Homo sapiens: one gene and its partner. The gene in region 1 interacts genetically with each later gene. Each region holds a gene or a part of one and is shown on either strand. Other genes may lie near its edges. The genes, in order: OPA1 and PHF5A.

What was found.
Region 2: changes in OPA1 (region 1) and PHF5A together harm fitness less than expected from each alone (positive genetic interaction), as found in Homo sapiens cells (one large-scale study listed by BioGRID).

Annotation. Positions count from the first base shown.
Region 1 is NC_000003.12:193,596,050-193,599,868, reverse strand, and holds part of OPA1 (dynamin-like GTPase OPA1, mitochondrial), read right to left. Parts: intron 1-3,819. UniProt on the Homo sapiens protein: Dynamin-related GTPase that is essential for normal mitochondrial morphology by mediating fusion of the mitochondrial inner membranes, regulating cristae morphology and maintaining respiratory chain function.
Region 2 is NC_000022.11:41,458,959-41,462,515, reverse strand, and holds the end of PHF5A (PHD finger-like domain-containing protein 5A), read left to right. Parts: intron 1-2,028; coding exon 2,029-2,118; 3' UTR 2,119-2,799; downstream 2,800-3,557.

The DNA of each region.
Region 1 (3,819 bases):
TAAATTTGTTCTGACCACGAGGCACCCCTGGAGTCTCTCTGAATCTGCGGTGATTCTGGAGACTGCCCAATTTGTGGATCATTTTTTTTCTTTGCTCAATTAAACTCCATCAAATTTAACTTGTCTGAAGTTTTCTTTTAATTCTATGTTTTGCCCAAGGTAGAATGATTAGCAAATGGTGGAAAAGAGATTGAAACTAGGGTCAGCCAGACAGTAAATCTCAAATTATTTCCACAAGCGACACTTGTGGGCAAGAGTGTGGGAAGCAGCAGATGCAGAAATACATGTGGCCCCAGATAAGAAGCTAAGGTGACATTTTGGACTCCCTGCCACTTCCTCCAGAGCCCCAGGATGATACTGCACCTTGCTGTGGTTCAAAACTCCATAGGATGAAGTGTGATGGAGGTTTAATAAATAAAACAAAAAAAGAAACCAAAAAGAAAACCAAAAAAGTACAAAAAAAAAAAAGAATAAAAAAGAGAAAGAAGGGTGCAGAGCTGAGACAATGAAAGGGCAAGAGACCCAAGGAGCTGGCATAGAAGGCTCATAGGAGGAGTAAAACTGGACTGAATATCCAATTGAAGAGTCACTGAATATAAGGCTGAGGCTTAACTTTTTTTCGTAGGCAATGGGGAACTACAGAGTTCCTGAGTAGAATAAGACTAATGAAACATTAATTTAAAGAAAATAGTAAAGATAATGTTAGGTCAAAGTAAATCAGAAGGGGAACAAAAAGGTGATCTTATTTCAGTTACCCAGATGTAAGGGGAAGAGCCTAAAGTTAGGTGGCAGCAATGAGAAAGGAAAGGGAAAGGCAGATACTCGCCAGACTAGGCACAGGAGGAAGGACAAAGGAAAGTCACCAATCACCACAAGGTTTTATCCAGCGTGACCCATGTTATCACTTACAGAGAGGGATATCAACCAGAGAAAGAGCTCATGGTTCCACAACGTTTAGCTCACCCTTCTTTCAACTACATCCTTACATCCATTTAGTCTATTGAGTCAGAAGAACTCTGGTTCCAATCACATTTCCACTGCTTACTAGCTGTGCAGTTAGGGCAAATTATGAATTTTCTAAAGCCTTAGTTTCTTAATCGGTTAAAATGGCATAATAGCTGTATTAGAGAGTCGCCATCAATAATCAATAATCTGATATTTCTTTCTTCTCCTTACCTATTCACATCCTCCTTATCTATTCACCCACTTACCACCTTAGATTATGCGGTTCATCGTTTCAATAACTCTTTTGCAAACATTCTAAACTCCCTCGTCCTCTGACTTTTCTGTTTGACTTGTCCAACAAAATACAAACCCTACATGAGCCTTATTGTTTTTCTCTCTGCCTGTACCCAGGGAAATAAAGCACTACTGGAGAAAATCACACCCAACTGGAAGCACATCTCAACAGGGCCCTCAAAACTACTTAACAATCCTACTTCATCTCTCTTAGCAATTCATTCTTCCACTCTCTGCTAGAAGAGCTCTTCTAATCTCCCCTTATCTCTCTTGACCTCCCCAACTCTCAGTAGATGACCTTGCCCTCTACTTCACAGAGAATGGAAGCTATTAGAATGACACATGTTCAACTTCCTCATACAAAAACTGTTCACCTACTGTATCTCCACCAATCCTCTTCTTCCTCATGTAAAATTAAGCGATCTTTCTCCCATTAAAGGTGAATCACTGTTTGGAATTCTCTTTCCTCCTGCCCTTTGAGGAATCTAAGTCAAATCTCTCCTCCCATATTTATTTTTTATTTTTGAGACAGGGTATTTATTTATTTTTGAGACGAAGTCTTGCTCTGTTGCCCAACGTGGAGTGCAATGGCATTATCAGGGCTCACTGCAGCCCCACGTATCTGGGCTCAAGTGTGATCCTCCTGCCTCAGCTTCATAAATAGCTGGGACTAGAGGTGTGTGCCAGCATGCCCAGTTAATTTTTTTTGAATTTTAGTAGAGACAAGGTCTTGCTATGTTGCCTAGGCTGGTCTCAAACTCCTGAGCTCAAGCGACCCTCCCTTTCAAAGTGTTGGGATTACAGGTGTAAGCCACTGCACCTGGCTATGTCTCATCTTAAAAGGGGGAAAAAAAGTACCCCATTTCCCTGCTCTAGCTATTTTATTAAAATAAAAGCCAAACCATCCTGATTTCCATTTCTTTTTTTTTTTTTTTTTTTGAAACGGAGTCTTGCTCTGTCACCCAGGTTGGAGTGCAGTGGCTCGATCTCTGCTCACTGCAACCTCCGCCTCTGGGGCTCAAGCGATTCTCCTGCCTCAGCCTCCTGAGTAGCTGGGATTACAGGGACCTGCCACCACACCTGGCTACTTTTTGTATTTTTAGTAGAGACAGGGTTTCACCATGTTGGCCAGGCTGGTCTCGAACTCCTAACCTCAGGTGATCCGCCCACCTCGGCCTCCCAAAGTGCTGGGATTACAGGAGTGAGCCACTGTGCCCAGCCTGATTTCCGTTTCTATCACTTCAGCGAAACAGCTCTTACGGAGGGCACCATAGGCTTCCAATGGCCATTTTGCTCAATTCTGGTTTTATCTGACCTCTCAGCAATACCTGACAATGTTGACACCTCCTCATTGTTGAAAATTCCTCTCCCCTGGGCAGTCTCTAGCTTTACCTCTATCTCACTGGCCACTCATTTTCAGTATCCTCAACTACCCTTGGAAATGTTGGGAACTCATCAAGGCTTAGACCTAACCTACTTCTCACTCTCCCTAGGCAATCTCATCTACACCCATTTCCTCCATTACCATCCACATACCCATGTTTCTCAAAATTATGTCTAATACAGTTAAGTTCCCCCTTTTGGTCAGCCCCTCAATTTAGAGAGATTAACCAAAACTTTAGGCGTTGACACCACTCTCTGTCACCATCATAAAGACTTATTTGATCTCAGTGTGGAACTCACAAGTCGTCTTTAGTTTCAGTACGGAGTCTCACACGTCTTCTTTGGTGTTAATAGGGAATTCACAAGCCGCAGCCTGTACCAGTTAAATGATTCTTTATGTTCTTGCTGATCCACTTGGAGCGAGACCATTCAACTGTCAACGTACAGCTGCATACAAAACATTTAAGACTTGAGAGTATACAGAGCGCCAAGGGGACTATTATTGCGACTATTAAGAGGATACCATCAAAATGCTAAGGCGTACTCCTTGTTGTTATTCAAAAACAGCAATCAAAGAACAATAGAAAGTGTACAGAATTAAACATGTCTTTAAGAGTTTTCTTAAAAGTTCATGGAAATGAAAAGTTGCAATGCTCAGTGCTAGGTGTCCTCTAAAAGGAAAAATAAAAATAAAAAAATTAAGTTGCCGCCAAATGCAGTGGCGCACGCCTGTAATCCTGGCATTTTGGGAGGCCAAGGTGAGAGGATTACCTGAGCCCAGGAGTTCGAGGCCAGCCTGGACAACACGCCAAGATCCTGTGTGAAAGAAAAGAAAAGAAAAGAAAAGAAAAGAACAGAAAAGAAAAGAAAAGAAAAGAAAATTAAGAAAAGAAAAGAAAAGAAAAGAAAAGGAAAGGAAAGGAAAGGAAAGGAAAGGAAAAGAAAAGAAAAGTTGCGATGGCCAATATTAAAAAAATCAACAGTAAAACCATGAAATGAATTAAGGAAATTCCCCAGGACATAAAATGCAAAAAAAAAAAAAAAAAAAAGGTGAAAAACATAAGAGGAAAGTTAAGTGATGCAGAGCTGTGGTAATGTGGTATCCAAAGGGAGTGGGAGGATGGGGGCGGAATGCATCCCGTGGGATGAACAAAAGGATCTACTGGGATTCAGGAAGAAAGTACTGAAGCTTCTAGA
Region 2 (3,557 bases), on another chromosome or scaffold:
CCTAGCAAGCTATTGGTAGGCGGCTTCCTTGGTACACCAGGCTTCAGAGATGGAAGTGCTCAATGTAATGACTCGATACTTCTTTTCTAGGAGATCCTAAAATGTTAGTGTTAGTTGCAGAGATTTTTGTAGTTGTTGATGTCTGCCCCCAAAGAAGGATATTAGTTGAGTTAGAAATGAGATGGCTAAGGACTTGATTAATTCATACTATCACCTAATATCACAGGACTCAAACTCTGACATGGGTGTTTAATAAAATCAACAGACCTGTAAGGGTTTTCCAGTTACAGCTTCCCCGGTTTTTCTCCCATCATCCCTAATCAACTGATGGAGTCATCATTTCTATATAACACAGCTTCCCAGGGGCTTCACTGAAAGCACTCAAGCTCATCAAATGGCCAGGGCAGCCTGTCATGACAAATTAGTGCATGGTCTGTCAACAGCCATCTATCTCTAGCCAGTAGTGCTCTGTACCCCCAAGACCATGTGTCAAATTAAGTGAATTAATGAAGACACATAAAACCCATTAGTCTCCTATGGTATTTAAAATGTAAGGGCCAGGCACGGTGGCTCACGCCTGAAATCCCATCACTTTAGGAGGCCGAGGTGAGTGGATCAGGAGGTCAAGAGATCAAGACCATCCTGGCCAACATGGTGAAACCCCATCTTTACTAAAAATACAAAAATTAGCTGGGCATGGTCGCGGGTGCATGTACTCCCCACTACTCGGGAGGCTGAGGCAGGAGAATTGCTTGAACCCGGAAGGCGGAGGTTGCAGTGAGCCGAGATCATGTCACTGCTCTCCAGCTTGGCAACAGAGCAAGACTCCGTCTCAAAAAAAAATAAAATATAAGGTATGGCCGAGCACTGTGACTCACGCCTGTAATCCTAGCACTTTGGGAGGCTGAGGCAGGCGGGTTGCCTGAGCTCAGGAGTTTGAGACCAGCCTGAGCAGCATGGTGAAACCCTGTCTCTACTAAAATACAAAAGAAATTAGCCGGGCATGGCGGCGTGTACCTGTAGTCCCAGCTACTCGGGTGGCGGAGGTTGCAGTGAGCCGAGATCGCGCCACTGCACTCCAGCCTGGCGACAGAGCGAGATTCCTTCTCAAAAAAAAAAAAAGAGTTTCATAGTCTACCTCAACTGTGTCATAGCAGCAGACATGGCTGAGAATCCAGCATTCTACATGAATTGCAAGTCATTGGATAGAGGGTAGGCAGGCCCTGAGCACATTCTTAGGTGTTTAGTAAATTATTGATGATAGATCAAATAGGATAATTGGTAAGATAAATGGCTAAACCATTAATCCAAAGGTTATAAAATGGTCTTTTTTTCTTTTTTTGAGATGGAGTTTCTCTCTTGTTACCCAGGCTGGAGTGCTGTGGCGTGATCTCAGCTCACTGCTACCTCCGCCTCCTGGGTTCAAACGATTCTCCTGCCTCAGCCTCCTGAGTAGCTGGGACTACAGGCACGCACCACCACGTCTGGCTAATTTTTGTATTTTTAGTAGAGACGGGGTTTTACCATGTTGGCCAGGCTGGTCTCGAACTTCTGACCTCAGGTGATCCACCTGCCTCGGCCTCCCAAAGTGCTGGGATTACAGGCATGAGCCACCGTGCCCGGCCTATAAATGATCTTTCATAAGTGCTAAGAGATAGGGAAGAAACAGTGCTGATCTGGGCCTCCCAATTAAGGAGATAACTGGTGTTTGGACACATTTACAAACCCATTTATTGAGTTCTTCAAATACTAAGATGAGAATTTGAACTCTGTGACCAATTTTTTTTTTTTCAAGAGATGGGGGTCTCGCTATGTTGCCTACAGTGGGGTACAGTAGCTGGCTATTCACAGGCATCATCATAGCCCACTAGTCTCGAACTCCTGGGCTTCAGCAATCCTCCTGCCTCGGCCTTCGAGTAGTAGCTGGGACTAAAGGCACATGCTACCACACTGGGCTTAAATTTTTTATCTTAAGTCACTCTTGGTTCAGGCTCAAAGACTTAACAACTTCTCTGTTCTGTTTTCCAGAGAGATGGCTGCCCAAAGATTGTCAATCTGGGGAGCTCTAAGACAGACCTCTTCTATGAACGCAAAAAATACGGCTTCAAGAAGAGGTGATTGGTGGGTGGCCCCTTCCTCCCCCCAACATCAGTCTGCTGCAGCTGCCAGAAAACATGCCTACTACTACCAGCAGAAAGGGAGCAGAGCCCAGAGCATCACCAGGAGTGCCTGCTAGTGTACTGGCAGCTTGCCACCCCCTCCTCTCCCTTCACCCAGACACGTGGTAGGGATGGAAAAGGATTCTTCACAGAGCACTCTGGCACACCATATCGGAGAAAACTTGATAGATTAGTTAATGGTTTTTCTTGAATTCGAGAAGCAAAGATCTGTTCTCCATATTGGTATGTTCTCCCTCAACCAAGATCTTCTAAAAAGAAATAATATTTTAGTCTTCTGCTTGAGGAACTGACTGTGAAGCGACGCCCAGTGAAAAACATGTTCTTGCAGCAGCTCTGGTGGCAGCTGTCCTTGAGGAACCTTTGGTGTGTGGTGGGAAGCTATCAGAACAAGAAATGTAGGCATTTCCCGTTTTTTTTGGGGGGGGGGTGGGGGGGCAGGGCTCTGCCCTCTTGAAAGGCATTTACTTGTTTAACACTTGTCCAGCTACAGTGGGGTACAGTAGCTGGCTATTCACAGGCATCATCATAGCCCACTAGTCTCATATTATTTTCCTTTTGAGAAATTGGAAACTCTTTCTGTTGCTATTATATTAATAAAGTTGGTGTTTATTTTCTGGTAGTCACCTTCCCCATTTAACTTTAACTCTAGGAATTTATTTTAGTCACCCAGGAATTTGTGATTCAAAACAGAGGTAGTGGGATTGGTTAAGTACTTTGTCCTCTTATTACCACTGGAAGGAATTCAAAACCACCCATACCTTTCATTATAGATAGATCAAAGTCATCTTTAGAAACGTACTATTTTTTCCTTCCTGTCCAACTTTAATTTTGAACTGAAGAGATAGCTTCCAGTTATGGTGGAGGCTGGGCACAGTAGCCCATGCCTGTAATCCCAGCACTTTGGGAGGCTCAGGCAGGCGGATCTTGAGCCCAGGAGTTCAAGACCGGCCTGGGCAACATGGCAAAAACCCATCTCTATGAAAAATATGAAAACTAGTCAGGTATAGTGGCATGCACCTGTAGTTTAGTCCCAGCTACTCAGAAGGCTGAGATGGGAGGATCCCTTGAGCCTTGGAGATTGAGGCTGCAGTGAACAGTGATCCCGCCACTGCACACCAGCCTGGGTGACAGAGCAAGACTGCCTCAAAAAAAAAAAAAAAAGATGGGCTGGGCGCGGTGGCTCACACCTGTAATCCTAGCACTTTGGGAGGCCAAGGCAGGCGGATCACTTGAGCCCAGGAGTTCGAGATCAGGCTGGCCAACATGGCAAAACTCCGTCACTGCTAAAAATACAAAAATTAACCAGGCATGGTGGCACTGTGCGCCTGTAGTCCCAGCTACTCGGGACGCTGAGACAGGAGAATTGCTTGAACCTAG